6 linked regions of the Homo sapiens genome follow. The protein of the gene in region 1 purifies or fractionates together with the protein of each later gene. This does not show direct contact. Each region holds a gene or a part of one and is shown in the gene's direction. Other genes may lie near its edges.

Evidence for each region.
Region 2: the proteins of RORB (region 1) and TUB purify together in Homo sapiens (affinity purification with mass spectrometry, with the first as the bait; one large-scale study listed by BioGRID). This does not show direct contact.
Region 3: the proteins of RORB (region 1) and VRK3 purify together in Homo sapiens (affinity purification with mass spectrometry, with the first as the bait; one large-scale study listed by BioGRID). This does not show direct contact.
Region 4: the proteins of RORB (region 1) and UBN2 purify together in Homo sapiens (affinity purification with mass spectrometry, with the first as the bait; one large-scale study listed by BioGRID). This does not show direct contact.
Region 5: the proteins of RORB (region 1) and OAT purify together in Homo sapiens (affinity purification with mass spectrometry, with the first as the bait; one large-scale study listed by BioGRID). This does not show direct contact.
Region 6: the proteins of RORB (region 1) and MIDEAS purify together in Homo sapiens (affinity purification with mass spectrometry, with the first as the bait; one large-scale study listed by BioGRID). This does not show direct contact.

Annotation. Positions count from the first base shown.
Region 1 is NC_000009.12:74,664,155-74,669,040, forward strand, and holds part of RORB (nuclear receptor ROR-beta), read left to right. Parts: intron 1-1,333; coding exon 1,334-1,441; intron 1,442-3,636; coding exon 3,637-3,747; intron 3,748-4,886. UniProt on the Homo sapiens protein: Nuclear receptor that binds DNA as a monomer to ROR response elements (RORE) containing a single core motif half-site 5'-AGGTCA-3' preceded by a short A-T-rich sequence.
Region 2 is NC_000011.10:8,097,332-8,102,217, forward strand, and holds part of TUB (tubby protein homolog), read left to right. Parts: coding exon 1-94; exon of another isoform or gene 95-382; coding exon 383-495; exon of another isoform or gene 496-1,426; coding exon 1,427-1,544; exon of another isoform or gene 1,545-2,008; intron 2,009-3,171; coding exon 3,172-3,270; intron 3,271-3,494; coding exon 3,495-3,666; intron 3,667-4,154; coding exon 4,155-4,288; 3' UTR 4,289-4,886. UniProt on the Homo sapiens protein: Functions in signal transduction from heterotrimeric G protein-coupled receptors. Binds to membranes containing phosphatidylinositol 4,5-bisphosphate. Can bind DNA (in vitro). May contribute to the regulation of transcription in the nucleus.
Region 3 is NC_000019.10:49,997,011-50,001,896, reverse strand, and holds part of VRK3 (serine/threonine-protein kinase VRK3), read left to right. Parts: intron 1-1,042; coding exon 1,043-1,107; intron 1,108-4,326; coding exon 4,327-4,393; intron 4,394-4,886. UniProt on the Homo sapiens protein: Plays a role in the regulation of the cell cycle by phosphorylating the nuclear envelope protein barrier-to-autointegration factor/BAF that is required for disassembly and reassembly, respectively, of the nuclear envelope during mitosis.
Region 4 is NC_000007.14:139,285,770-139,290,655, forward strand, and holds part of UBN2 (ubinuclein-2), read left to right. Parts: intron 1-4,886.
Region 5 is NC_000010.11:124,404,527-124,409,412, reverse strand, and holds part of OAT (ornithine aminotransferase, mitochondrial isoform 1 precursor), read left to right. Parts: intron 1-447; coding exon 448-672; intron 673-775; coding exon 776-871; intron 872-1,996; exon of another isoform or gene 1,997-2,110; intron 2,111-3,849; coding exon 3,850-3,977; intron 3,978-4,886. UniProt on the Homo sapiens protein: Catalyzes the reversible interconversion of L-ornithine and 2-oxoglutarate to L-glutamate semialdehyde and L-glutamate.
Region 6 is NC_000014.9:73,721,854-73,726,739, reverse strand, and holds part of MIDEAS (mitotic deacetylase-associated SANT domain protein), read left to right. Parts: intron 1-32; coding exon 33-136; intron 137-631; coding exon 632-707; intron 708-1,379; coding exon 1,380-1,468; intron 1,469-3,892; coding exon 3,893-4,042; intron 4,043-4,886.

The DNA of each region.
Region 1 (4,886 bases):
TTGTAAAATAAAGAGATGGACTAGAAACAATGAATTCCAAATTTAGAATTGCATCAACAACATCAAAGGAGATTATTGACAGTTCAGAGACATGGGCACCATGAGTCCCATGGAATCCAAATCTCCTGGAGGGGAACCCAGTTCATTGTATCTCTAACTAAGACTCAGATATAACCAATCCATGGGCTGACATTTGGGAACAACTGAACCATATAATCTTTAACATCTCTACCTGGTGTAAAAATGTTGACTCTAGTCAAAAAGGTAGGGTACTTAATATTTTCAAGCCTCATGTAACTCCTCCATAAAATAGGGCTAATAAACTCACCTGAAATAGTTATTGTAAGGAGCAAAGATAAAAAATGAATGTAAGAGGCCAAAGAAAGTTCCTTCCATTGTGTAGATACTCAATAAATGGTACCCATCTACTGTTTGTGTCAGAAAAGCATTCCTTCAATTAATATTTGCAAATCCTCCCCATGTATAAGCCTCTATGCTAGGTGACGTATCAAAGACAAGCAGAGAGAAATCAGCAAACATATGTACAGCAAAGGAAATAAAACAGAGACATAAAGATAAAGTGATGGCATAAGACAGGTACCAAAGTTGTAGGCTAATCACCAGTATGATGCTCTCATGCAAATCTGTGGCTGCTGAGTCTGGCTGTTAACTTCAACTGCACTATGGGGCAAAAGCCCATTTCTCCAAAACATGGGAAGCTATGCAGCAGTATTTCCTCAGGATGTTAATAATGCTCAAAGGGAAAAACAGTGGTAGTAAACAAATTCATTCAATAAATATTTGCTTAGCACCTACTATGTGCCAGAAACTTTTCTTGGTCCTGGAGATGCAAGAGTGAATACAGTAATCATGGCTGCCTATCACTGCAGACAAAATTTCTGCCCTCATTTCCTCAATTGTGAATTCAGGAATCAAAACTAGCTTTAATATTAGTGGAAAAATAGAGAAAAATGTATTTTCAAAAAGTAATGTCCAGCTTAGCCACCTGTAAAATATATTTTCTCCTTAATTCCTCATATAAGTATCAAGAAAACTTTATTTCTAATATATTAAATTGGTGCAAATATATTAGGTTTTTGCCAATACTTTCAATGGCAAAAACTGCAATTATTTTTGCACCAACCTAATAGTTATTTTAGGGGAAGGAACTTAAGGGATTTCTGTATGTGTGTGCCTGTGTGTGTGTGTATGTGTCTCTCTGTGTGTTTTAAAGTTCTTGAAAGTCTCTTACCTATATGCAGTAATAATTTCTTTATTATTGGATATATATGTGTATTTTTATTTTATTTTTATTTTTATTTTTTACTCATAGGTTGCTTGGAAGTGGTTTTAGTGAGAATGTGCCGTGCCTTCAACCCATTAAACAACACTGTTCTGTTTGAAGGAAAATATGGAGGAATGCAAATGTTCAAAGCCTTAGGTAAGTTTCCCTTTGATGAGGACACAATTTTATTAGCCACCATCAGTTTCTCCACTTAGATTGAAATTGGTAAATGAAATGCCTTGATTCTTTGATGTGAACCAGTATCTCATTATTCGATAAGCGATGGACCAGGTGAGCTTCTAATTCAGGCAAGCCTCTCCTGATCTTGTAACTGTGGCCTCCAATACAAAAGAAAGAGAGAACTGAGGACCCTCCTGAGAACAACCCTATTGAGACATCGTTCATTCAGAAATAAATGGAGGCCCAGCGTGGTGGCTCATGCGTATAATCCTAGAACTTTGGGAGGCCAAGGGGCGCAGATCACTTGAGCCCCAGAGTTCAAGACCAGCATGGGCAACATGGCCAAACCCCATCTCTACAAAAAGTACAAAAATTAGCTGGGCATCACCAGGTGTGGTGGCTCATGCCTGTAATCCCAGCACTTTGGGAGGCTGAGGCAGGTGGATCTCTTGAGGTCAGGAGTTCTAGACCAGCCTGGCCAACATGGTGAAAGCCAGTCTCTTGCAAAAATACAAAAATTAGCCACGCATGGTGGCTGACGCCTGTAATCCCAGCTACTCAGGAGGCTGAGGCAAGAGAATCGCTTGAATGTGGGAGGTGGAGGTTGCAGTGAGCTGAGATAGTTCCACTGCACTCCAGCTTGGGCAACAGAGCAAGACTCCATCTCAAATAAATAAAATAAATAAATAAAATTAGCTGGGCATGGTGACACACACCTGTAGTCCCAGCTACTTGGGAGGCTGAGGCAGGAAGATTGCTTGACCCTGGGAGATTGAGGCTACAGTGAGTCATCTTCACACCACTGCACTACAGCCTGGGTGACAAAGCGAGACCCTGTTAAAAAAAAAAAAGGAAAGAAATAAGAAATAACCGGAGGCTGATGCTAAAAGAGTAAAAGAGCTGGGCTGAATTATAGATCATTCTTTGTGAAATCAGCTTTTTTTTTTCAACTTTATTGCATATTGCATAGACCCCTGGTCATCCATGGTGGTGACCTCTTGCGTTTCTTATGTCAATTTATCATCATGAGTTAAGATACTTAATTAAATGAGGAGCTCCTCTACTTGTTTCTCACCCACAGAAGTTAATTCACAAAGTTCTGGGAGCACAGAGTTCATGCCAACCTGTCCACAGTGATCCCAGACCATTCCTGTGGGAAGGCACTAACAGAGTCAGTCTTTGTTTGGAAGTGTTATATATCATCACATCCAGTCATCAGTGCATGGCATGGTAGGAAGAACATTAGCAAAGATGGGCTGATGCCAGGAAAGGTTTTAACGATTGATAGTGCCATTTGTTCCATATCCTGCCCATGGACACCAAAGAAGGCCACTGCCCTTTCACCTCTTGTGCTGTTAGTTGATATGGCAGCCAACAACAAGTCCATCGGGGCTGGCAATGTTTCCCTTCTACAGTTGATACACATCCATGTCATCTCCAAGGCTAGATTTTCAAGAAAGGAGGAAAAGCCTTGGCAAGCAACCTCAGTATATTTCCAGCTTCATCAAATAAACATTCACCAGGGATCAGTGTAGAGATGCAACATTATTTTGCCAAAATACGCAACAGCTAAGCAACTGACCTGTGAGTCATTCATTAGAAGGTAATAATAAATAAACTCTAGCTCCTCAGTGAAATTTCCAAGGAAATTGCGAAACTGAAGTGCATCTCATCTCTGTTCCATTAGATATTTCTAACGTCTCAGTTTAAAAGTCCAGAATACCCTACATTGCTAGCTTCAAGTGTTACGAAGACTGACAATCCTCAGCCCCTGTATGTAATGTTTTAGGTTTTCTATGAATACTATCTCTATTGTAAAGGATCCCCAAATCACTTATTTTATATTCTTTAATGTGAAATCATTTCAAATTTATAAGGATGTAATCATATTATGGATTGCCAGACAGATGTGACACCACTCACACACCAAGTCTACTTGCTTGCCATTGGTAGGTAATGTTAACTTGGATTGCCTGGCCAAGATGTTGCCCAATTTTCTCATTCTTTGATTAGTATCAAATCACTTTTTATAATTAGAAACTTAAAAAAATATCTTTTCTAGAAGTCTAGTATGCACCTCCTTGGATAGCTTATTGATTATGAGATTTTTCTTACTCTTGCCCCATTTCAAGTTCAAGTATTTTTATTCCATTTTTCTTCTTCCTTTATAGGTTCTGATGACCTAGTGAATGAAGCATTTGACTTTGCAAAGAATTTGTGTTCCTTGCAGCTGACCGAGGAGGAGATCGCTTTGTTCTCATCTGCTGTTCTGATATCTCCAGGTAGGGCAGTCTCAGTTCTCTTACCTTTTTAAAAAACTTGTTTTACTATTTTTAACACTGATGACACCTGCCTAAGCCAAAGTGTTCAGGAGAAACTTTAACAGAGCTATATTTTCTTTACCAAGTTTTTGATATTTTTGGACAGTGAAAAGGGAAGTAGCCTCAAGTTTATTAAAATGACCAATTTTGGCCCGAAAGCAAGAGTAGAGCATAGGTTAGGGGTTATTCCAGATTCAGATACGCAGAATCATTCCTTAGCAAATAAAGGAAGACAAATAGTGGCCTGAGTTACAGCCAAGTTCTATTTTGACTTTAAGAATAAAGTACATAGAAAATAAATGTCCAGTTGGATGAGACACAGTAGAAATGTACCTAAATGAAAGCTCCAGAATGGGGACCTACATAAGTAAAAGGAACACTTTCTACTCTTTAAACACCTCTTGTGTTGGCATCTTTGCCCAAATTCATGTTGAGGTGCTCACTTCAGACAAATGCTGGTGCCTATTTTCTTAGCAATACATTTGACCTTGAACAATGCAGGGGTCAGAGCATTAACTCCCTGCATGCAGTCAAAAATCTGCATGTAACTTCTGACTCCGAAAAATTTCACTACCAATAGCTTACTGTTGACCGGAAGCCTCGCTGATCACATAAACAGTCGATTGACACATACTTTGCATGTTAAATGTATTGTATACTGTATTCTTACAATAAAGTAAGCTAGAGAAAAGAAAATGGTACTAAGAAAATTATAAGCAAGAGGAAACAGATTTCCTGTTCATTAAGTGGAAGTGGATCATCATAAAGGTCTTCATCATGGTCGTCTTCATGCTGAGTAGGCTGAGGAGAAGGAGGAAGAGGAGGGTTTGGTCTCGCAGTCCCAGGGTGGCAGAAACAGAAGGAAAATCTTCATATAACTTGACCTACACAGTTCAAACCTATGTTGTAGAAGGGTCACCTGTATCAGGAGTTTTTAAAAGGAGGTGAGGACAGCAGAGGGGAAAATGACTCATACTGAAGACTGCCCAGTAGAAGAGGAAAAACTTCAGACATGGAGGTGGACATTCTGGTGCCAGCTCTGTGACCAAGTATCTGTGTGATATTAAACATTTGACCCCTCAGAGCCCTAGTTTCCTCAT
Region 2 (4,886 bases), on another chromosome or scaffold:
CATCAAATGCCGCATCACTCGGGACAAGAAAGGGATGGACCGGGGCATGTACCCCACCTACTTTCTGCACCTGGACCGTGAGGATGGGAAGAAGGTAAGGTTGGTCTGGGCATGTTATCATCTAGGCTTTACAGCCCTTTGAAATCCTAGGGGCTGAAATGTGACTGGAAGTCTCATATCTACCACTGACCTCTCAGTTCCTCAAAGAAACTGCCTTCGTGTCTGGTCTGTGCACATCTTTGTGTTTTCCAGTGCATTTGTGTGTGTGCACATATGTGCGTTTGGGAGCTGACGCAACGGAGAGAGTCTGTGTGAGTGGCTCTCATGACTGTGTGCAGACCAGAGGCTGAGTCTGGAATATGACCTCATTCCACTCCCCAAGGTGTTCCTCCTGGCGGGAAGGAAGAGAAAGAAGAGTAAAACTTCCAATTACCTCATCTCTGTGGACCCAACAGACTTGTCTCGAGGAGGGGACAGCTATATCGGGAAACTGCGGTACTAGCATTCCCCCAGGAAGCAGGCGGGAGTGGGAGGGAGGGGCAGGGGCAAGCTGTCTGTAGAGGGCCTGAATCTTCCTGAAGGAGATCTAGGCCAGGGATGGATACTCTCCCAGGATCCTCTCTGATAATCACATCCAACTGGAGGCCTATGTCTATGCCAGCCTAGAGCCAGACTTGGAGATGGGAATCACACACCCGACCCCAAGCTGTTCCCAGGAGGTGGGTGCAGGCCCACCAAGAGTGATGGATCCAACCCCAGGGTGTCACTGATAACGCAGGCCACCATGGAAGAGTTGCCTTGGCTCCATGGTCAATGCCAAGGGACAGGGCTGAGAGTGAGCTCTTGAGGGAAGAGACACACAGCAATCTTGGGGGTGGGGGGCAGTGGTGAAGGGGCAGGAAGGCTCTGAGCCTAGGCCTCCAGGTGGGGGCAGTGGGGAGGTAGGGTTTGCTGAGGAACTGAGTACCAGATTTGGGGAGCATAAATAAAGATGAGAGGTCAGGAGCTAAAGCTGGAGATGGGGCTGGACTGAGACTTAGGCTGGCTGCGACAGAGGAGATCTCATCCTCTCTCCACGGGTGCTAAGCCTCTTCCACTGTCTTATCAGATGCCATTCTGTTTGCTCACCTCCCATGAGGAGAACTCCCATGTTCCCCCAGATAAATCTTCTGAAGAATCCTGATTGACCTCCCTGAATTGCTCTCACTGAACTGAAATGCACTTTGAGTCAACTCAGAGCAAGTCCAGGCCTTCTGCCCACGAAGTGTCTTCAAAGATGTGGATTCAGTGAGCAGTATGCCTCCCTGGGCCTGCTCCTGTTCCAGCCCAGAATGTTTTGCAGGCTCCTCATAGGACAGACGATGAGCTGTTCCCTGCTCTGGGGCAGAGGGTGCATGACTCTATACTGATTGTGCCTTTATTTCAGGTCCAACTTGATGGGCACCAAGTTCACTGTTTATGACAATGGAGTCAACCCTCAGAAGGCCTCATCCTCCACTTTGGAAAGTGGAACCTTACGTCAGGAGCTGGCAGCTGTGTGCTACGTGAGTCCTAGGTTCGGGGGTCTCTGATTTCCAAGGTAGATATGAAATCCAGGACTTGATGCCTGATCTAGGGGCTATCCCATCCATCTTAGTGGGTAGACAAGGCTGTGTGGAGAGGGGCTGTCCTCTGTGGAGTGTTCCTGGCCTAGGACAGGGGCTCTGGCTCTCTCCTCCTGACTTCAGAGCTCACACCACAGCCGGCCATCTGCTTGGGGAGCTCAGAAAACCAGGCCTGGCTCTCTGCAGTCCAGGCCAGGAGTCTCTTAGACAGAAGGAGACGGTCGCCCTGGGTTCTTGTCTGTGCATTTCCCAGATCATCCCTCTGGCATGCCAGGTTCTACATGGATTACACGGCACTTTGTCATCTCACTGAACGTTCAACCTAAGAGGTAGATCCTATTTTCTTTATAGATGAGGAAACTGAAGCTCAGCTGCAGATGTCACACAGCTCAAAAACGACCAAACTGGAATATAAATATAGGGGATTACTCTACCCCTTTGAACCTTTTTCTTCATTTTTAAAATCAGGGGTGGGTATCTCATCAACCTGGGCATGGGCACTTCTTGGAGGCCATCAGTAAGTAATCCACAGCTACTTTGTATGATCCTGTGGTGCCACCTGCTGACCAGTTTTGGGGAGGCAGCCTGAGTCTTCAAGTTCTTACTGAGCTCCAACTAAGCATATTGTTTGAGGCACTAAGGATATAGTAATGAACAGACATAAATGTATACCTTTATGGGACTTAAAGCCCTAGCAGGGCAGACAAGCTATGAAACAGATCTATCAGTGAAGTAAGTATGTTCTTTATAAACACTAAGAAGAAAAAGTAGGGGAGGGGAGATAAGAAATGTCAAGGTATGTGTGAGAATTTCAGAATGGCAGGGAGGGCGTCACTGAGGTAGCTCTTGAGTAAAGACCAGAAGGAAGTGAAAAACAGCAGTGTACGTGTCTAGGGGACACAGTGAGGACAAAAGTCCTGAATGCCTGGCATGAAGAAGGAATGGAGTGGATACCAGGCAGTAAATGGTGAGGAGAGGAAGGTCATGGGGCCACGTGCAGGTGAAGTCACATCTCCAGCTTTAACTTGGAGTGAGCTGGAGAGCCACTGGAGAGTTCTGAGCAGAGGAGAAAGATCATCTGACTTAATGTGCCTGAGCACTGGCTGCTGTGTTGAGAACAGATGGTGGGAAGGAGGAATAGGAGGGCCAACAACAGAAACCAGGAGTCCAGGCAAAGGCTGTTAGAATGATCTTGGTGAGAGAAGCTAGTGGTGAAAAGTGGTGGAAGTCTGGGTATAATTGGAAGGTGGAGCTGACAGAAACTGCTGATGGATTAGACGTAGGATGTAGAAGAGAGGACTCGAGTGTGACCAAGTAGTTTGCCGGAGCGAGTGGAAGAACAGCATTGCCGTGAGCAGAAGCAAGGATGACGCATAAGAGGAGCTAGTTCTGGCAGGGTAGAGACCCAGGGGCTCAGTTCTGGCCGTGTTAGGTTTAGAGGGATGTGTGTTAGACTTCGGAGTGGAGATGGTGGGAACTAGCTCTTCCTCTTTATTCCCGTCCCCCCCACCTTCTCCAGTAGGTAAATAGACGCCTCAGGTGGCCAGTGTTGCGTTCTCTTTCCCAGGAGACAAACGTCTTAGGCTTCAAGGGGCCTCGGAAGATGAGCGTGATTGTCCCAGGCATGAACATGGTTCATGAGAGAGTCTCTATCCGCCCCCGCAACGTGAGTGTCTACCCCTTCCTCCCCTCTTTCCCCATCATCCTAGTCTCTGCATGAGCTTCTAAGGGCAGAACTCCAGCTGATGTGTGTATGTGGAGGGGTACCATGTGAGAAAGCCCTGGAGGTCTAGGGAAATCCAAGGACCCCCATTCCCGGGATAGATCCCTTTCTGGGGTGGTCATGGTGCCAAAGGCCTGGGCCTGGCTCAGGTGAGGCTGCCCTCCCAGGAGCATGAGACACTGCTAGCACGCTGGCAGAATAAGAACACGGAGAGTATCATCGAGCTGCAAAACAAGACACCTGTCTGGAATGATGACACACAGTCCTATGTACTCAACTTCCATGGGCGCGTCACACAGGCCTCCGTGAAGAACTTCCAGATCATCCATGGCAATGACCGTGAGTGTTTCTGTCCCTACTCATTATGGTCCGTAGGATACCCAAGGCCCTTAGCGTAGGGTTCAGCCCACCTAGCCCTGCCTACACTGGCTAGAGTTTAAGAATGTGAGCTATACAGCTAAGGTTAGATGTATGGAACTTTCTAACCCTAATGACTGGGAGGTCCTGGAAGAACCTTCTTTGCAGCCCTGGTCCTAGATTCTGTGTATTCAACGGAGTCTCAGGCACGGGAACACCCTTTAAAAGGACTTTTCCTCTTTTCTGTCCCCTGGTGTTCACATGCATCTTACTTTGTCCTTTGCCATCTGCCACCTCTTTCCTGCCACTTCTCCCAATTGGCCTTTGTTTTACTTCCCTTTGTGATTCCCCTGGCATCTCTGCTTCTCACTTGTTCTTCCCTCATGTGGTTTGGGTGTCTGTCTATCCTTCCCTGGCTCTACCATTCCTGTCCTGTCCTTTTCTCTGTCTGTGCCTGTGCTTGGCCCCAGCGGACTACATCGTGATGCAGTTTGGCCGGGTAGCAGAGGATGTGTTCACCATGGATTACAACTACCCGCTGTGTGCACTGCAGGCCTTTGCCATTGCCCTGTCCAGCTTCGACAGCAAGCTGGCGTGCGAGTAGAGGCCTCTTCGTGCCCTTTGGGGTTGCCCAGCCTGGAGCGGAGCTTGCCTGCCTGCCTGTGGAGACAGCCCTGCCTATCCTCTGTATATAGGCCTTCCGCCAGATGAAGCTTTGGCCCTCAGTGGGCTCCCTGGCCCAGCCAGCCAGGAACTGGCTCCTTTGCCTCTGCTACTGAGGCAGGGGAGTAGTGGAGAGCGGGTGGGTGGGTGTGAAGGGATGAGAATAATTCTTTCCATGCCACGAGATCAACACACACTCCCACCCTTGGGGTAGTAGTGTGTTGTAGTCGTACTTACCAAGCTGAGCAACCTCTTCAGCTGGGAAGGCCGCAAGAGGCATAGAGGGAGAGGAAGCACACTGCAGGGCTGCTGTGGCCCAGTCGTCCGCTCAGCCAAGGAGTCAGATGGCAATGGGTACTCCAGCAGGTAGGGGCACAGTGAATGTGTGTATGTATGAAGGCCACATCAACTTTATGTAGCAAAGGGCTTGGTGGCCAAGCCTGGCCCTTAAACAACTGCAGAAAGCCCTTCAACTTCAGAAGGCCTCACTCAAGCCTGAGAGAAGTTGGGAGGGTGGTGGGGACAGGTAAGTGGCAGGA
Region 3 (4,886 bases), on another chromosome or scaffold:
TTACTCCTGCCAGCCTGTTGAGTCCTTGCAGCCAGTCTCGGGGTAGGCCTTACTGCTCCCATCTTACAGACATGCAAATGGAGGCCCAAAGTCATACAGAGAGCAGATGGAGGAGCTGGGATTTGAACCCTGGGTCAGCCTGGCGTTTCTTGGCCTCTCTCCTCTTCTCATCTGTCAGATGGGACCATGCATGTGAAGCCCACACTTAGCACAGGGCCAGAGACGTGGTGAGGTCTGTAAATGAACAGTAAGGGCTACTGGAGCAGGCTCTGTCGGGGGACAAGCATGCAGGGTGCTTATGGGGAGCTGCCTCAGGGATCAGAACCCAAGGAGGGGGTAAGGAGCAGGAGGTGGGCTGCGATGCAGCCCAGTGATGGCCTCAGCCGACCCTGCAGGGCTCTGGAGCAAAAGTGGTCCTTCAGCGTGCGTCCGTGTTGGGCCAGGAGAGGCTGGGCCTTTATGTCCACCTCAATCAGTCACTGGACCTGGGTCACCCTGGGATGTGGCCTTGGATGAAGTCACTCTGCCTAGGACGCACCTAATTGCCCAGCCACAGGCTGTGACAGTACATGGGAACTGTCCACCAGGAAGTTCCTCAGAGGCTCAGTGCTCGGGGCTGTTATTGGGGAGTAGTCATGTGGCCCCCTCTGTCTGACATGTATCCGCATCCCAGGTTCCCCAGAGGAAAGCAGGTGTTGCACAGAAACCACAGTGATTGCACAAGCAGTTTAGGCTCAGCGAGCCCCACTCACTTAGGGGATTCTGGGAGCCCTCCCGGAATCCAGGGTCCCAGACCTTGCCAGGAGAGCCGTCTCAGGCCTGCTGCATTAGCCCTTCCTGCATGGCTGGATAGTGACAGAGAGAAAGAGGAAGAAGAAGCTTATTTAAAACTAGGAAGCAGCAAGTCGTGAGAGCCAAGAGTGCGCTTGACCTTGTTGGAACCAGGGCACCAGAGCCGCTTCTCATTGCTGGGAAGTTTGGGGATGATGACCCTGACCTTCCGCGTGGTTATAACCTCACTCCCTTGTTTGTTCCCCCACAGCTGCACCCACCTCCACCCTCACCTGTGACTCAGGACCACAGAAGCAAAAGTTCTCACTCAAACTGGTAAGTGACCCTGCAGGTGGGGGGCAGCTTGGAGGGGAGGGACTTTCACAAACACATCCTTGACTTCTGAGCCCGTCTGTCAGCTGGGAGAGCTCGGCCGGGGGCCAGGGTCCCCACCTGCAAGGAGTATTAAGACCGTGGGCGGGGCAGGCGCCCAGTTCTCCATCATCCCAGGGTGTTGGAAACCCACAGTTGGATCCACCCAAGTCTGGCTCTGATGCTTCCCTGCTGTGTGACCTGGGCAAGCCCATCCCCCTCAGAGCTCAGTTTCCTCATCTGTGAAATGGAGCCACTAATACCCACAGGGTGTGGCCCATCTGCCCCCTACCACCGGCCTCGCAGCGTGCTCGTATCGAGCACCTACTGTGTATCACCGTGCTGGGTGTGGGGTCCAAAAGAGAACCCAGCAGATGGGGTCCCTGTGCTGAGGATTCAGTGAAATCACACATCGGGTGCCGAGCATGAGTCTCAGCAGACAGGACATGTGCACTCGAGGTTGGGGCTAAAAGGAAACAAATAGAGAAAGGGAGAGTGGCCACGAGGGTGAATCACGCCTTCCACACAGAGGAGGTGCCTAACAGAAGGGCATCGTGGTGGTTCATAGCCCCGCCATCATCCCTGGGTGCTGGGATTACAGGTGACTCTTATTTTCTTTTTGTTTATCAGAATTGTCTCACACCCCAGAAAACCAGGGACAGCTGGGTCAGTTGCCCTCCCTCCGCCCTAGGTGGAGGCCATGAGAGTGGGTCAGAGCGTGGGCTGTGGAGCCGGGCTCACTAGTGGTGGGTAGCACCTGCTTTGAGAGCCTGGCATTGCCTGAGCCGGGCTGTGTTTCATAAGCACTGCTTCATTGAATCCTCCCAGTAGGGCAGCTACCGTGTCCCATTTAACACTTCTCTGCATGGTTCAGGTGTGTCTGGCACAGTAGGCACCCCATCAACCTGAGCTGTTCCTGTTATTACTACTGTAATTATGCTCATCATCCTAGAAATACAGCCTTGCTCTCTGTTCGTGCATCTGACCTCATCAACATTTCCTGAGGCTCAAAACTTGGTGATGATGAGTTGGCCCCAGGCCCAGCCCTGGAGAGGCTCCCAGTCTGGCGGGAGCCATGTCATGTCCCAGTCCCATCGGGAAGAGGGGTGGGCTGGGAGGGGAGCACAGGGCACTGGGCCAACCAGAAGACATTCACCCTCCCCATCCACTGGGAAGGCAGCTCTGTTCTGAAGCATTCGAAAGGTCAGGGGCTGAATGCCCAGTGGTGTTCATCCATCCATTTATTCATTTATTCACCAAGCCTTTCCTGCAACCTCCTGTGAACTGAGTGCTGGGGACATCTGCAGAGATGGGTCAGACCCAATTCCTGCCCTGAAGGAGCTGCCCCCTTGGGGGAGTGGGGCAGGCATGAATACCCCACATGAGATTGCTCAGGGCCTGCATGGCTGTGCCCACGTCGCTCGCGTCAGTCACTATGGGCTTCGCCAGCATCGTGGGGAGGACTCCAGGACGCAAAAAGAGAAAAGGACAAGAAGAGGAGAAGATGGGGCAGGGAGCCAGGCTCACTAATGACCAGTAGCAGCACCTGCTTATTGAGAACCTATTATGTGACAGTCCCTGGGCTGAGTGTCACAAGCATTATGTCATTTAATTCTTTTGGATTTTTGTTTGAGACAGGATCTCTCTCTGTCACCCAGGCTGGAGTGCAGCGGTGCAATCAAGGCTCACTGCAGCCACAGCCTCCTAGGTTCAAGTGATCCTTCCACTTTAGCCTCCCAAGTAGCTGGGACCACAGGCATGCACCACCACGTCCAGCTTTTTTTTTTTTTTTTTTTTTTTTTTTTCTGGTAGAGATGGGGTCTTCCTGTGTTGCCCAGGTTGGTCTGGAACTCCTGGGCTCCCACCTTCACCTCCTAAAGTGCTGGGATTATAGGCATGAGCCATCACACCCAGCCTTTTGGTTTTCTTTGGGGTTTTGTGTGTGCGTGTGTGTGTGTGTATGTGTGTTTACTATGTCATTGAATTATTTCAGCAAGCCTATGGGATGGCTTCCATGTTCCTATTTAACAGATGAGGAAATGGAGACTCAGTCACTTGCCCAGGTGCACCCAGCACGCAGGTTGCTTTGTTCACAGCTATATCCCCAATGCCCAGAATAATACTCAGCATATAATGGAGGCTTTGTAGGAAGAATGAATGAATGAATGGCAGAGCTGGGGTTTGAACCTAGATCTGTTTGACTCTATACTCTTAAGAACTCAGCTGCATGAGTTGTGTTTAATTAAAATATTTGGTGCTTTTTTTTTTTTTTTTGCTACAAAATCTCACTCTGTCACCCAGGCTGGAGGTGCAGTCTTGGCTCACTGCAACCTCCGCCTCCCAGGTTCAAGCAATTCTCCTGCCTCAGCCTCCCGAGTAGCTGGGATTACAGGCACGCACCACCATGCCTGGCTAATTTTCGTATTTTTAGTAGAGGCAGGGTTTCACCATGTTGGCGAGGCTAGTCTAGAACTCCTAACCTCAAGTGATCCACCTGCCTCAGCCTCCCAAAGTGCTGGGATTACAGGCCTAAGCCACCACACCTGGCCATTTAGTGTTATTTTAACAAATACCTAATATTAATGGTGGCTTAAGCAAGATGATGTTTTATTGCTTTTTCATTTAAAAGTCAGGGGCAGTTTTCCAGAGCTGATAGGATGGTTTTATAAACAAGGGGCCCTGTTTCCTTCTTTTTGCACCAACATTTTCAACGCATAACCTGCATCTCCTGGGCCGTAGTGGCTGCTTCAGCTTCCACCATCACATCTGCGTTGCAGCCAGCTGGAACAGAAGAGGAAAGGTAGAGCCTGTCCCAGCCCACTAAGGGCATAACCTGGAAGTTGCCCACATTTCTTCTGCTCACATCCTCATTGGCCAGAACTTGGTCATGTGGTCAGTCCTCACTGCAAAGGAAGCTGGGAAACGTAGTTTTTATGCTGAAGGCTACATTCTAGGGAACACTGTGGCTCTTACCATAAGAGAAAGAAAAGGAACCTGGGTACAGCAAGGTAGCTCGCAGTCTCTGATGTGTGTTTGTGTGCAGTACCTGAGGAATTTGGCTCCGATGTGGGGACTTGATGAGGAGCCTGGTCATTGAGGGAGTAACAAATTGCCAGTGGGGACTGGGGGCCCTTATCTGAGACTTCAGTGTGACAGCCTTCTGCCCCTCCTGTCCCCCACCAGGATGCCAAGGATGGGCGCTTGTTCAATGAGCAGAACTTCTTCCAGCGGGCCGCCAAGCCTCTGCAAGGTACCTGACAGGGAACTGGGCAAGGAGGGGAGAGTGAGGGGGGCGCCAACTTGGTCACAGCACTTGACTTCTACCTGCAGGCATGAGAAGGGTGGGCTTAGATTAAAGGCCCAGGTTTGCTCCCATCTGTGTCCATAACCTGACTCCTGTGACCCCTCAGGCCTCAGTGTGTGTTGTGACTGGCTCACACCAGCTCTTGGAAGCCAAGTATTAAATTTTCAGGCTGGGCGTGGGTTGACGCCTATACTCCCAGCACTTTGGGAGGCTGAGGTGGGCAGATCACTTGAGGCCAGGAGTTTGAGACCATCCTGGGCAATGTGGCAAAACCTTATCTCTACTGAAAATACAAAAATTAGCCGGGTGTAATGGCATGCACCTGTGATCCCAGCTACTCAAGAGGCTGAGCTGAGAGAATTGCTTGAGCCCGGGAGACAGAGATTGCAGTGAGCTGTGATTGTGCCACTGCACTCCAGCCTGAGCAACAGAGCCAGAC
Region 4 (4,886 bases), on another chromosome or scaffold:
TCTCGCTCTGTCGTCCACGCTGGAGGGCAGTGGCGCAATCTTGGCTCACTGCAACCTCCGCTTCTCGGGTTCAGGAGATTCTCCTGCCTTAGGCTCCCGAGTAGCTGGAATTACAGGCACCCGCCACCATGCCTGGCTAATTTTTGTATATTTATTTATTATTATTATTATTTTTTTGAGACGGAGTCTTCTCTGTTGCCAGGCTGGAGTGCAATGACATGATCTCGGCTCACTGCAACCTCCACCTCCCAGGTTCAAGCAGTTCTCCCTGCCTCAGCTTCCTGAATAGCTGGGATTACAGGCATGGGCCACAATGCCCAGCTAATTTTTGTGTTTTTAGTAGAGACAGTGTATTGCCATGTTGGCCAGGCTGATCTTGAACTCCTGACCCCAGTTGATCTGCCCACCTCGGCCTCCCAAAGTGCTGGGCTTACAGGCGTGAGCTACCACACCTGGCCTAATTTTTATATTTTTAGTAGAGATGGGGTTTTACCATGTTGACTGGGCTGGTCTCAAACTCCTAACCTCAAGTGATCTGCCCGCTTCCGCCTCCCAAAGTCCTGGGATTACAGGCATGAGTCACTGCGCCGGGCCTATATTTTATCTCTCTGTCTTCCATATCATCTTCTGTTATTGTTTTCATCTCTATGCCACTTCTTTGTATTCTGACACTTTCTCAGATTTGTCCTTTATGTTAATGATTTAGTTTCTTTAACTTTTTTCCCCTGAAAGTAATGTATGTTCATTGAAGGCAAATTTAGAAAAAAGAAAATAAAAATCACCTATTAATCCAATACTGTTTATGCTTTGTAGGTACTTTTTAAGACTTTTTTCAACAAAATGTGTTTTGTATAATATTTCGTTTTATAACCGGCAAAAAAAAAATACCATTTTATGATATGCAAGTTCTTAGGTTCTTAAATATTCTTTGAAAACATAACTTTTATTTATTTATGGAATTGTGTTGTCTAAGGAAGTGCTCTTTGTACTGTCTCCTATTTATGTGGAACAGGAACATGTAATGAGAAGAGTTTCCCCTTGCTGTATGTCAAGGTTTCCTGCTGTTCAATATAGTCTAAGGGTTGATATTCAATATACATTGTATATTCAAATCATCATTCTGCTACTAATGTAGGCATAGGAATGACTGGATGCCAGAATTCTAATGAAGAACAAATTCAGCTAACTGGTAATTCATTAATTGAAATCTAGGATTAACTGATGTTTTATGTATATACATTTACTTTCATCAGAAATAAAATAATAAAAACATTGATACTAGGGATTATATGTTAAAATGTATATGGAGATGGATGAATAAAGGCCTTCCCTTATGAAAAAAAAGGTATATGGAAGATTGGAGTTAGTCTGCATTACTGTTTATTAAATAGTTTACTCTTCTTAAAATTAATTCTTAATTTGATCAAAGGAATAAGTGAAAAGATAGCATAAATGGTAGTTCCCTGCCCCGTATCCTCCTCCTAGGGTTAACTACTTTTAACTCTCTCAGCATTTTCTTCTTTTTGTTTTTAAATAATAATAAATGGAAAAGTCTTGATTTTATCAATTTTATAAAAAATTGGGGAGTTATTTCTGGAATTAAAAATTCATTTTTATTTTCATTTGCTTCATTTTCTTTGAACTTAAGATTAAATCTTTCTTCATCCTTTGTCATCTCTACAGTCTGTCAGTTCTATTTTGTTCCCAGAGATCTTCCTGTATTTCATTATTGATTGCAAAAGAACCCCTATACTGTCTAACAAATAATTGGTTTGTCAGCATGAAGGCTACTTGGCAAAGTATGAGTTTCTGAAGACTAACTACTCCCTCCTGGTTTTCTTCCTCTCCCAAATGGCTTTATGATTTGGAGACTGAAGTGTTCCTGCCTTCATATCTGATCTTTTTTTTTTTTTTTTCTGTCTTACTGGTTTGACTGAAGAAAAGATTAATAATTGAATAAGGTCATTTCTACCCTTTGGCGAAAGTAAGGTTCTTTTTGTTTTAACATAGCGTCTCAATAAAGTCTTACCAGCTATCTTGTGGCCTCTAGAACCTGTCTATAGCTCTCCAACACTGAAAACAGAGTTCCTATCTATGCCTGTAAAGCATTCACCTTCTGTCTGAAAGGCATCTGTGGGTGTCTGCTCATTTGCAGAGTGAAAATGACAGGTCCTTTAACAAATGGCAAAAGTTAAACTCCTTCTGGGTTCAGGTTGTTAGCTCTGCTTGCTTTCTGTTTAATAACTTTCCACACAGGGGTTTCCTCCTCTTTCTTACCCTTCAACTTACTGATTTTCTGTGAATCCTGTCTTTGCCACTTTATAATTCCAAACATCATTCATTCATTAAGCAAATGTTTATTGAGTGTTTACTATGTGCCAGGCACTCTTCTAGGTGCTGGGGATATAGGGATGAACAGCATACTCACACATATAGTCTAGGTAGGAAGACAAGGAAAAATACAAGTTTTTTCAAAATGTGGTAAATGCTGTGAAAAAATTGTAGGATAATATGATAAAAGTGATTGCTGCTAACGTAAAAAAGGTTAAGAAGGTTTGAGGAGGTAATGTTTGATTTGAGAATTGAATGAGCAGAAGCCAGCCATGTGTAGAGAAGAGGGGGAAAATAGTTCAGGCCAGAGGGAACAGTTGTATGAAGACACTGAGATGGAAAAGAGCCTGAAGTGAAGGCCTGCATGGCTGGACCATGGGGAGAGAGTGGTAGGTGATGAGATCAGAGAGAGACCAGAACCATGTCATGGAGGACCTTGTGGACCACAGTAAGGACTTTGGATTTTATTCTCTGTGCAGTGGGAAGCTATTGGAGGTTCTTAAACAGGGGACTGATATGGTCTGATTTGCATTTCAAAAGTTTACTCTGGGCGTTGTGGGGAATAGGGGACCAGTGCACTCACCAAAGTAGAGTATGTGGTTTAAAAAAAAATTTAATTGCGGCCGGTCGTGGTGGCTCATGCCTGTAAACCCAGGACTTTGGGAGGCCGAGGTGAGCGGATCACGAGGTCAGGAGATTGAGGTCATCCTGGCCAACATGGTGAAACCCCATCTCTACTAAAAATACAAAAATTAGCTGGGTATGGTGGCACGTGCCTGTAATCTCAGCTACTTGAGAGGCTGAGGCAGGAGGATCACTTGAATCCTGGAGTTGGAGGTTGCAGTGAGCCGAGATTGCACCACTGCAGTCCAGCCTGGCAACAGAGGGAGACGCCATCTCAAAAAAAAAAAAAAAAAAAATTAATGCCCACTACGGGAAGAGCAAGGATTCCCTTCAATGTTTTTTCCCCTGGGAATAAAATGTAGAGGTCACGGAAAGTATTTTTGATTATGGGGCATAATCTGGAACTATTTACCTGCTTCATGCTGACTTCTTGTGCATGATCCCAGATGATACCAACATTGGAGTACCCCACTGCTGAAAGGTCTCCATCTTTTAGGATAGAGAGATTTGCAAATACCCATGTCACATTTAGATTATCTGATGCTTCCATTTATATTTATAAACAAATTAAAGTGGATATAGAAGTTACTTGAAAGTGTAAAATGTTAGACAGTTATGGCATAGTATCACTTTTTTGCTATACTTGAGTTATTTAATTTTGGAAATTGCCCTCCCTAATTTACATTTTGCTTTTTTTTTTTTTTTTGAGACAGGGTCTCACTCTGTTGCCCAGGCTGGAGTGCAGTGGTGCAATCTTGGCTCACTGCAGCTTCCGCCTCTAGGGTTCAAGCAGCTCTCCTGCCTCAGCCTCCAAGTACCTGGGATTACAGGCAGACGCCACCATGCCCAGCTAATTTTTGTATTTTTAGTAGAGACGGTGTTTCACCATGTTGGCCAGGCTGGTCTTGAACCCCTGGCCTCAGGTGATTCACCCAACTCAGCCTCCCAAAGTGCTGGGATAATAGGAGTGAACCATCGCACCTGGCCCTCATTTTGCATCTATTTTAATGCTTCAATTACACTCCTTCAGAAAAGCTTTAAAAGATTCCTTTTATTAACAGTATTTAATGTTCCTCACTAGGGAACTCCAACTGGGGCACACAGCCTTGGAGACTCTTTATCATCCCAAGACTGCAGTAGAATTATGATTAGAAGAAGCAACTCTGGTTAAATTTTTTTTTTTTTCCGAGACAGAGTCTTGCTCTGTTGCCCAGGCTAGAGTGCAGTGGCACAATCTCGGCTCACTGCAACCTCTGCCTCCCAGGTTCAAGCGGTTCTCCTGCCTCAGCCTCCTGAGTAGCTGGGATTACAGGCATGCGCCACCACACCTGGCTAATTTTTGTATTGTATTAATGGATTAATTATTGTAATTTTGTATTTTTAGTAGAGACCGGGGTTAGTAGAGACCACCATGTTGGTCAGGCTGGTTTCGAATTCCTGATCTCATGATCCGCCCACCTTGGCCTCCCAAAGTGCTGGGATTACAGGCATGAGCCACCGTGCCTTGCCAACTCTGGTTAATTTTTAAGTTGATGCAGGATCTTTTCTTTCCCAGTTGCATTAAGATACTATTATTTCTAACTTGGTAATTTTTTCCTAAATGTACCCATTTTATATATTGTGGTTGGCACAGTACAGGAAAAGACAGGCAAATAAGAAAAACTGTCAGGTTCAAACATGGAGTGGTGAAGATTTGTACTTAAGTGTAAGAGCAAATTTTGGTAAAAAAGAAAGAATGGGTTTGTTGACTATAATGTTATCATTTTATAATGCCTGAAAACTAAGGTTTCAGGCCTAAGGGACTGGAAAGAATGGAATTCCCTGATGAAAGCAGTTGACAGAAGATGGGGGAACCCATTGGAGAAGATGATTTCAGCTTTGGATATGTCAAGTTGGTGCTAGATATTCAAGTGGAATTATTCTCTTAACTC
Region 5 (4,886 bases), on another chromosome or scaffold:
CAGCATTTTTCTGTAGCGTCAGGGATTTTGCCGTGTTGTCCAGGCTGATCTGGAACTCCTGGGCTCAAGCAATCCCTGCCTTGGTCTCCCAAAGTGCTAGGATTACAGGCGTGAGCCACGGCTCCCTGCCTAACTTCTGCTTTTAAATTCTAATTTTGGATCCTAAATCTTAGAATTAGGTAAAGGTTTTACTCCAGAGTTTATAACCTTTTTGTGTTATTTTTGTTAAATGTGTGTTTTGAAGCTGGGCAGATAAAATACAATTCTTAGTAATTCCTTACAAACCAAAGTTTATTATGCCTGAGCTAAAACAAGCTTTAACTACAAATATGTATTAAATAGAGGTTCATATATAGGCATTCAGAGGGCTTGCTAGCACTCTTAATTTTTGGACTTTATGCCGTATAGTAATTGTCTAAAATTATTTTCCTTTCTTATGTATTTTAGGTATTTACTTATGGGATGTAGAAGGCAGAAAATATTTTGACTTCCTGAGTTCTTACAGTGCTGTCAACCAAGGGCATTGTCACCCCAAGATTGTGAATGCTCTGAAGAGTCAAGTGGACAAATTGACCTTAACATCTAGAGCTTTCTATAATAACGTACTTGGTGAATATGAGGAGTATATTACTAAACTTTTCAACTACCACAAAGTTCTTCCTATGAATACAGGTAAAACATTTCCTTTTTTTGTTAAATACCCTCAAAAATAATCTTTTTATTTTTTGATAGTTTAACATTTTAAAAAAATCTGAACATTTTTCTCTCCTGATAGGAGTGGAGGCTGGAGAGACTGCCTGTAAACTAGCTCGTAAGTGGGGCTATACCGTGAAGGGCATTCAGAAATACAAAGCAAAGATTGTTTTTGCAGGTATGTGAAATTAAATATTAACTTCTATGATTGAAACATACAATATAATTTACTGTGGCCAGGCATGGTGGCTCATGCCTGTAATCCTAGCATTTTGGGAGGCCAAGGCAGGAGGAGTCTTTGAGCCCTGGAGTTCAAGACCAGCCTTCTGGGCAACATAGGGAGACCCTGTCTCTATTTAAAAAAAAAAAAAAAAAATATATATATATATATATATATATATACACACACACACACACACACACACACACACACACTTATATATTTTATATATAAAAAACATATATATATGTGTAAATTTACTGTTTTAATTTGCTGATGAAATACTTGTAATATGTTTTGCCTGGTACATGATACGTATTTGCTGAATGTTTCATAAAAATTTATGAGGGATTTCCTCTTCTTGGGATTATTTCTTCATATATGAGATTTTTCTTTCTGAACTCCATATTCCTCTCATTTGCCTGTCAGATTTTTTTCATAGCAGTTATCCAGTTAATTAGATAGTCTCACTGGTGGAGGGTTTGTGTTGGGTGCTGGGGTTGGGTGAAGTTAGTGTGGGGCCATGGCCTACATAGACTGTGGTTTGAATCTTGATATTGGAGGTCCTGTTGTGCCATGTTCCACTTAGAAGCTGTTGAAAAGAGGAGGCTTGGAGTTGCCCTTGTTAGGTTTCTGGGACTGGATGAAAGGAATAACTTGAATTTTGGTTAGGGAGACTAGCAATTAGTTGAGAAGATGTAGTTTGACTGTTGGGTTCTTTATATGATATTCAAATGAGAGGTTCTGACTTGTTTTTTAAGCTTTATTTTTTTAAAAAACAAGTATGTGTACATTTGTCACTATAATGGTCAAAGTTCATTCTTGTGATAGTTGAAATCATTAAATATTCTGCCTTGTGAACACATGCAGTTAAATGATAAACCCCATAACATAATAGAATCCAGAGTTCAACCGAAGGCCAGAGGTGATTGGTATTTGAGGGGACAGATTGGTATTCCCAAAGAAGAAATCTTAGCAAAACTCTGTAACTTGCCATTTAAAAATCTTGTGCTTTCGTTGTAGGACAACATAACTGTCTCTTGCAAACAAAAATGGTGTTTCTGGTGATTTTCATTCTTATAGACTGTGTCCAGTCTCTTTCTTAATAGCAAAGGGTGCAAAGATGTTTTCACCTGAGTATTGAAAGAAGCTGGTGAGTCAGTGGGGTGGAGAGACAGAGGAAGACTGTCCCTAACTGTAAGTCCCTTATACCTGCAGGGTAAGTGACTGAGGATGAGGTTCCTGAGGCTAGGCAGGGGAGAGCAAATAGGCTTATGGTCTAATCAGTGCATTTCTTCTTAAACAAACCTAGTCAAAATCAATGTGCTATTTTTTGTGGACAAGTGAAAGAAGAGATTACTTGTGGGTAAGGGATGCTGGTGAAAGAGGCTTTGCAAGAATAGTATTTAGAAACGAGATGAAGCCAAAATACGATAATCCAGCACTGATTAATGGAGTTGCTGCTGGCAGAAGTGGTGAGAAGATAAAAACATGATGTCACAAACTCCCAACCTCTCTGTTATTTTACATGGTGTCTTTCCTTCTTGAATGTCATCCTCTCTGAAATTATCTAGCTCACTTGCTTTACTGGTTTATGTCAGGTGTTTTCTCCCTGCTAGAAAGGAAGCTCCCTGAGGATAGGGATCTTGCCAGTTGTGATCATGATCTATTTCCCAACTTTTTTTTTTTTTTTTTTTGAGACAGAGTTTCACTCTTGTCACCTAGTCTGCAGTCTGGCTCACTGTAACCTCTGCCTCCAGGGTTCAAGTGATTCTCCTGCCTCAGCCTCCTGTGTAGCTGGGATTACAGGCGCCCACCACCACGCCCAGCTAATTTTTGTATTTTTAGTAGAGACAGGGTTTTGCCATGTTAACCAGGCTGGTCTTGAACTCCTGACCTCATGTGTTCTGCCTGCCTCGGCCTCCCAAAGTGCTGGGATTGCAGGCGTGAGCCACTGCACCCGGCTTCCCCAACATCTTTATTATTATTATTATTATTATTTTTATTTTTTGAGACAGTCTTGCTCTGTCACCCAGGCCGGAATGCAGTGGTGCGATCTCAGCTCACAGCAACCTCTGCTTCCTGGGTTCAAGCGATTCTTGTGTCTTAGCCTGCTGAGTAGCTGGGACTACAGGTGTGCACTACCATGCCTGGCTAATTTTTGTATTTTTAGTAGAGATGGGGTTTCACCATGTTGGCCAGGCTGGTCTTGAACTCCTGACCTCAGGCGATCTGCCCACCTTGGCCTCCCAAAGTGCAGGGATTACATAAGTGAGCCACTGTGCCTGGTCTATTCCCCAACATCTAAAACAATGCCTGACATAGTAGATCCTCAGTCACCTTTATTAATGGATAAAAAATATTCCAGCAGAAAGGGAGACGTCTGTCATTTAGCATCATAAAGGATTATAATATCAAGGAAGGTAAAATGGAAACGTGTTTGGATTGCTTGAGGATCTTTTCTCCAAATGAAATTGGAAATGCATTCTGTTGTTAGCCTGCAGTATTGGAGTTTTGAAAGGAAAACCGCTAATTGTCTATGAAGGATATTCTTTCTCATATCACTATCATAAATGCACCTTCTCTAGAAAACATGCATTCAAGACCTCAATTGTTAGGGCTTGGTTTTGGGTTGGGGATTATTGAAAGAAAAGTAAGTTATCTATCTTCAGGGGCTATATATTCCAGTCAAGAGGCTCAGTAGAGAGAAATGCCTAAAATAGGAATTACAAGGCCAGACTTAGTGGCCTTGTGTCATAGGAGCCATGGTGTTTAATATCAGACTTTGTTTTAACAATTGAAAGCCCACCGAAGGTGCACTAAAGCAAGCCCTTGATTTATTTTTTGAGTCAAACTTCTTGTGGTGTTTTGCGGGGATAGTGCTTATTGAATTTTGGGTTTCTTTGAAATAATCACTGTTTGTTTCCCCTTTGTAGCTGGGAACTTCTGGGGTAGGACGTTGTCTGCTATCTCCAGTTCCACAGACCCAACCAGTTACGATGGTTTTGGACCATTTATGCCGGGATTCGACATCATTCCCTATAATGATCTGCCCGCACTGGAGGTATTTCACTAGCATCATAGTGCTCAGCTCATTGGGAATAGAAATTAAAGCTGTTGAATATATGAATTAAAAGTACATTATATGACAGTAATGCAAATTTATCTCACTTAAGTTAAGCCACGATTTCAGACTTGTTCTCAGTAGCGATCAATTAGTTTCCAACACAGAGAAAGCTGAGTTCTGTGATCTACTCTGTACAGCCAGCCAACTACTTTAGATGTGTGTCCTTCATAACAGTTAACTTCGGTATACCTGCTTACTTACTAGGTAAAATTTCTGTTTTTAGCTAGCTTTTTAAAATTATGAAGTGGAAGACTTTTTAAGAAAGCCTTAAGTTGGCTTTAAAAGGCTATTTACTTTAGATTTAATTTAAGTAATTAATTTCTTTTTTTGAGACAGAGTCTCACTCTGTCACCTAGGCTGGAGCGCAGTGGCACAATCTCGTCTCACTGCAAACTCCGCTTCCTGGGTTCAAGTGATCCTCCTGCCTCAGCCTCCCAAGTAGCTGGAACCACAGGCACACACCACCACACCCAACTAACTTTTCTATTTTCTTTAGAGACATGGTTTCGCCACGTTGGCCAGGCTGGTCTCGAACACTTGACCTCAAGTGATCTGCCCACCTTGGCCTCCCAAGGTGCTGGGGTGACAGGCATGAGCCACTGTGCCCAGCCAGATTTAATTTAGGTACATTTGTGTATTAGAAAACAGGCTGGGCATGGTGGTACATGCCTGTAATCCCAGTGCTTTGGGAGGCCAGGGCTGGAGGAGCACTTTGTGTTCAGGAGTTCAAGACCAGCCTGGGCAGCATAGGGAGAGCCTGTCTCTACAAAAAAATTTAAAAATCAAGGTCAGGCGCGGTGACTCACGCCTGTAATCGCAGCACTTTGGGAGGCCGAGGCAGGCAGA
Region 6 (4,886 bases), on another chromosome or scaffold:
TCCCCTCCCTCCTCATGCTCCTGTGGATCCAGTGGAAGACCTGCTGACAGCCGCCTGCTCCAGCATTTTCCCTGGTGCTGGCACCAACCAGGAGCTGGCCCTGCACTGTCTGCACGAATCCAGAGGAGACATCCTGGTGAGAAGGCAACCCCAGCAGAGGGAGGGCCCCTCAGTGGGGGCTGGCTTGGATCCATGTCTGCTGCTCAGGACCTATGGCTGCTGGCATGCACATTTGAGGCCAGTAGGAGGGTCTGACTAAGGAAGGGGCTGTAGGGGCTTGACCCAAGGGAGCCCTAGTTTCAGACCCCGGGTTTTGCTGTGCAGTGTCCTCCTGTCCATTCCCATCCCTGATTCTGGGTCAGTGGACTCAGACTGGATGGTTGCTGAGAGCCTTCTCCAGCAGTGCTGCCTCCCTTGGGGCCATGGACTCTCTTAAGAGGACCTGAGGTCTGTTTTCTGGGCAGCCCCACCCCCTGTGATCTCACCACCCCAGTGGACCCCTTATCTCTCAGCAGTTAAGGGGGCAAGAGTAAGTGTCCACCCTACTCGGGATTTTATCAGGGCCTAGAATGCTCCGTCCACCACCGACACCCCTGTCAGTGCCCTGACCCTTCCCTCACTTCCCCTCCAGGAAACGCTGAATAAGCTGCTGCTGAAGAAGCCCCTGCGGCCCCACAACCATCCGCTGGCAACTTATCACTACACAGGTGGGCCTGGCTGCGGTGGGCATGGTGCCTGGAGCCTCAAGAGGTCTCCAGCATCCATGGGGCCCTGCTCAGTGCTGAGTCACAGCCCTGGGTGGGGGCGGGAGGAGGAGGGTAGATAAGCCAAGAGTCAGAGTGAGGGAACTGCCACCAAAGCTGGGGTAGCTCTCCAGGGGTTTCCTGTGCCCTGGAGGGGAGGGGAGAAGGGAGTGGGCAGGTGGGAGACCATCCAGGCAAAAAAGCCCAGGCCACAAGGACAGGAACCCATGGAGAGCCATCCAGATTGGCATCAGGTACCTGGAACTTAGCCCCAGGAGTGCATGTCCTGTTCTGGTCACTTTAAGAAGGACATGGACCGAGTCACATAATCCTAACAGCCAATGTTTTCCATGCATGTTAGTGCTACATTTCATCTGCACCAGGCAGAGCACCAAGGGTTTCACATGCATTATCTTATTTAATCCTCACCACAGCTGGTGAGCTAGGTGATATTAGTTTCCATTTCACAAGCAAGGGAGCGAGGCTGTGAGGCACATGGAAGTGGGACGAGGAGCCGGCTCTGATGCCTGCAGAAACCATGGGCGGATGGCCTCACACTTTTTTGCTTGTCAAAATTGCCCTGCAGTGGCCAGGGCCCTGCCCACCTCACTCCCTGGCTGCCTCTTTGCCCCATAGGCTCTGACCAGTGGAAGATGGCCGAGAGGAAGCTGTTCAACAAAGGCATTGCCATCTACAAGAAGGATTTCTTCCTGGTGCAGAAGCTGGTGAGCTGGGCTCTGTTTCAGGGCAAATGAGGGCCAGGAGCTGCCTGTGTGACTTTGGGGCTCCCTCTGCCAGTGACCAATCCCTCTTAAAAAGCAGTCAGGTCAATGCTACTGAGTAGCCTCAGAGAGAATTTCCTAAACAATACAAGAAAGAGAAAGATAGGTCTCTTTTCCCTTTTGGTTCTAAGCATCCTTTCCTCACTTCAGGGTAGGGTGGCCAAGCTCTGGGGTCTCAATCCAGAAGGAGGCCTAAGTGGGCATCAGACTTAAAATAGGCAGGAGGAAGATGCGGAGGAGGGTGGCAAGTAGAGGTGAGCCATTCCCCAGAGGAAGATGCAGGGGGAGGGCACCCTGGGGTGAAGGCCACTGAGAGCCAGCAAGTGCCTGCGGAGCTGACCTGGGGGCCTCTGCCCACTTCCTTTGACCCAGAGTTGCCTTCCAGTAACTCAGCTGTTCAAGCCCACATTCCCTAGATTTATCTTGTCCTCTCTCCATATTCTTCTGGAAAAGCAGATGCTTTGCTAATCCAAGGAATTGCATCTTTCCAGCCCTGTCTCACAAAATCTGGGCTGTGGGGAGAGAGAATTGTGTGGACTGCCAAGGGAAAAGAGTTTTTAAAAAGAGCATGCCCTTTCCTCTTGGGATTGTAGATTGTATTGGGAACAGCCCTGGGGACTAGACAAAGTGCTGATGATGAATTCCCCTACAAGGGCCCTGTTGTGAGGAGTCCTTTGCTGTGTTTTAGTAACACGCTATTCCCTGATTGGGCAATACTGACGGGAAGTACACGCCCGTGAAATTCACGGAGGCGCCCCTAATGCCTAATGAAATGAGCAGACCTTTAGTCAGTCAAACAAAGGGTCAGAGAGAATTGACAGTAAATGTGTAAATGGCCTAATTAATACATGTGTGACTTGGCCATTTCTGTGAGATGAAACATGTCTGTTTCCTCCTCAGACACAAAGGGCCCACACTGACCCCTGGCCTCTCTGGACAGGAGCTCCCAGCCCAGCGGTGGCTGAGCAATGTGCGAGCCTGTGTGGTGGTGTCAGAGGAAACAGCCTCTGGGTGTGGGAAAGTTGCCCAAAAACTAAACCCAGTGGCCAAATAGATTTATGCAATGGGAGAGCTAGAATTTCAGAGCTTGAGAGGCAGGTCCCTGGAGATCATCTAGTCTTACTTAACCCCATTTGCTATTTACACATGAAAAAACTGAAATTAGAAAAGTGAGTGACTTGCCTAAGCTCGAATAGCTGTGTGGTAGCAGAGTCAGGAGGAAGACTTAGGCCTTTCGCTTCCTCCTCAGGTTTTCCAGGGCTTTCTTGTGAGTTTCCCTTGAGTTCCTCCCCCGACAGGGGACACTGTGACATTTCTGTATGCTCACTTCTCAGCCACTGCTCCCTGGAGAGAAATGAAATTGTTTGCCTGGATTAATGAAAAGCGTCTGTGTTGCCAGGTCAGGGCTGGCTTTGGATGTAGATGGTGCCCAGACCTTTTCCCTCAACTTTTCAGTTTGAAAAATTTCAAACTTAGAGGAAAATGGAAAGAACAGTAGAATGAACACCCATCCACCCCGGACTTAGATTTAGCAATCGTTAACATTGGCTATATTTGCTTTCTCTTTCTCTATGTCTAAACATAGACACACACATATACAGCTCTCTCTTGTTCTCTGATTCAGCTAATCATTAAAAGTAAGTTACAGTCATCCTGTCACATGACTAAAACCTTTCAGCACGTATCTCCTAAAAACCAAGATATTCTACAAAACCACAGTACCATTAGCACGCCCACGAAATTTAACCTGATAAAATAATTCAGGCCAGGCGAGGTAGCTCACGCCTGTGATTCCAGCACTTTGGGAGGCAGAGGCAGACGGATCACTCCTGAGGCCAGGAGTTTGAGACCAGGCTGGCCAACATGGCAAAACCCCATGTCTACTAAAAATATTTAAAAAAAACTAGCTGGTTGTGGTGGCACACACCTGTAATCCCAGCTACTCAGGAAGCTGAGGCACGAGAATTATTTGAACCTGGGAGGCGGAGGTTGCAGTGAGCCAAAATCGCGTCACTGCACTCCAGCCTGAGTGACAGAGCGAGACTCTGTCTCCAAAAAAAAGAAAAAAAAATACAGTAATGCCCTCTGATATGCAATCCATATTGCCATCTCCCGAGTGGTTCCGACATTGTCCTTTATAGCTTTTTTTATTTATTTACTTATTTTAAATAGTGCTGAAGCATTGATTAATTGATCAGTGGTTTGTTGCAGAGCAGGCATTGGAAAAATGCTTGTATTGCCTGGGTTGGCTGGGTTTCATTTTGGCTTGAAGTTAAGGGAAAGATGCAGGGACGAGAAAGGCTGGATTCTCCACAGGCAGATGAGCCAAACCAGAGGGTTCTGACCTCAGTTTTGACTTCAAACCAGATCCAGACCAAGACCGTGGCCCAGTGCGTGGAGTTCTACTACACCTACAAGAAGCAGGTGAAAATCGGCCGCAATGGGACTCTAACCTTTGGGGATGTGGATACGAGCGATGAGAAGTCGGCCCAGGAAGAGGTTGAAGTGGATATTAAGGTGACTCCTTTTCCAACCTCAGCTGCATAGAGCCTGGGCTGGGTCTGGGACCAGGCCTGAGCTGGGAGCCCGAGCCCGAGCTCTCCAGGAGCCTGCAGAGGGCAGGTTGAGGAAGACAGTGTCCCTGACAGCCGCAAGGAGCCCTGGACCGCTGGGTTCTCCTCTCTATACTGCTGGTGTCATAGTAATAATACATTGTGTTGATACACAGGGTAATTTTCCCACAAGATTCACACCAGCATCATCTTCCTATCTCCGCTTAGCAGACCTCTAACACTGTTTCTCAAACCTCAGTCATTCTTGTATCACCTTTTTGATTTCTGCCATATCTGCATCCTACCATGTGTCGCCATTAGAATTTTTGTCATATTCATATACTACTTGTGCCATTACTTAATATTTTCCTTTAAGTCAACTCATTTTTTACTCAGAAGGGAAGTTTTATATCACAGTGATAAATAGAAAACCAAGGTTGTGTGCTATAAATAGAAGGTACTGGTAAAAATATATGTGAAAACCAGTATTACTGAATTCTAGCTAGATGCTGTGTTACCTGCCAAGGCTGAGACTGAGGGCTGACCTTGCTTTGTTAAAGAGATTATCAAGTCTAGAGAAGTATAAAAGACACATTAGCAGCAACCAGAGACTGAGTCCTTGGCATAATCAGGATTGAAAGAGAATTAAAAGGGAAGGTTACTTAATCCTATGTCCATGTATCCACCTAGCATCATTTTTGGGATTGCAAATCCACGCTTGGTGACATGCTACGGTAAGACAGGGAGTGGTTTGCTGCCCATTTTGCAGGCAGGAAGGTAGTAGAGCTACAGAAAGCATTACAAAGATA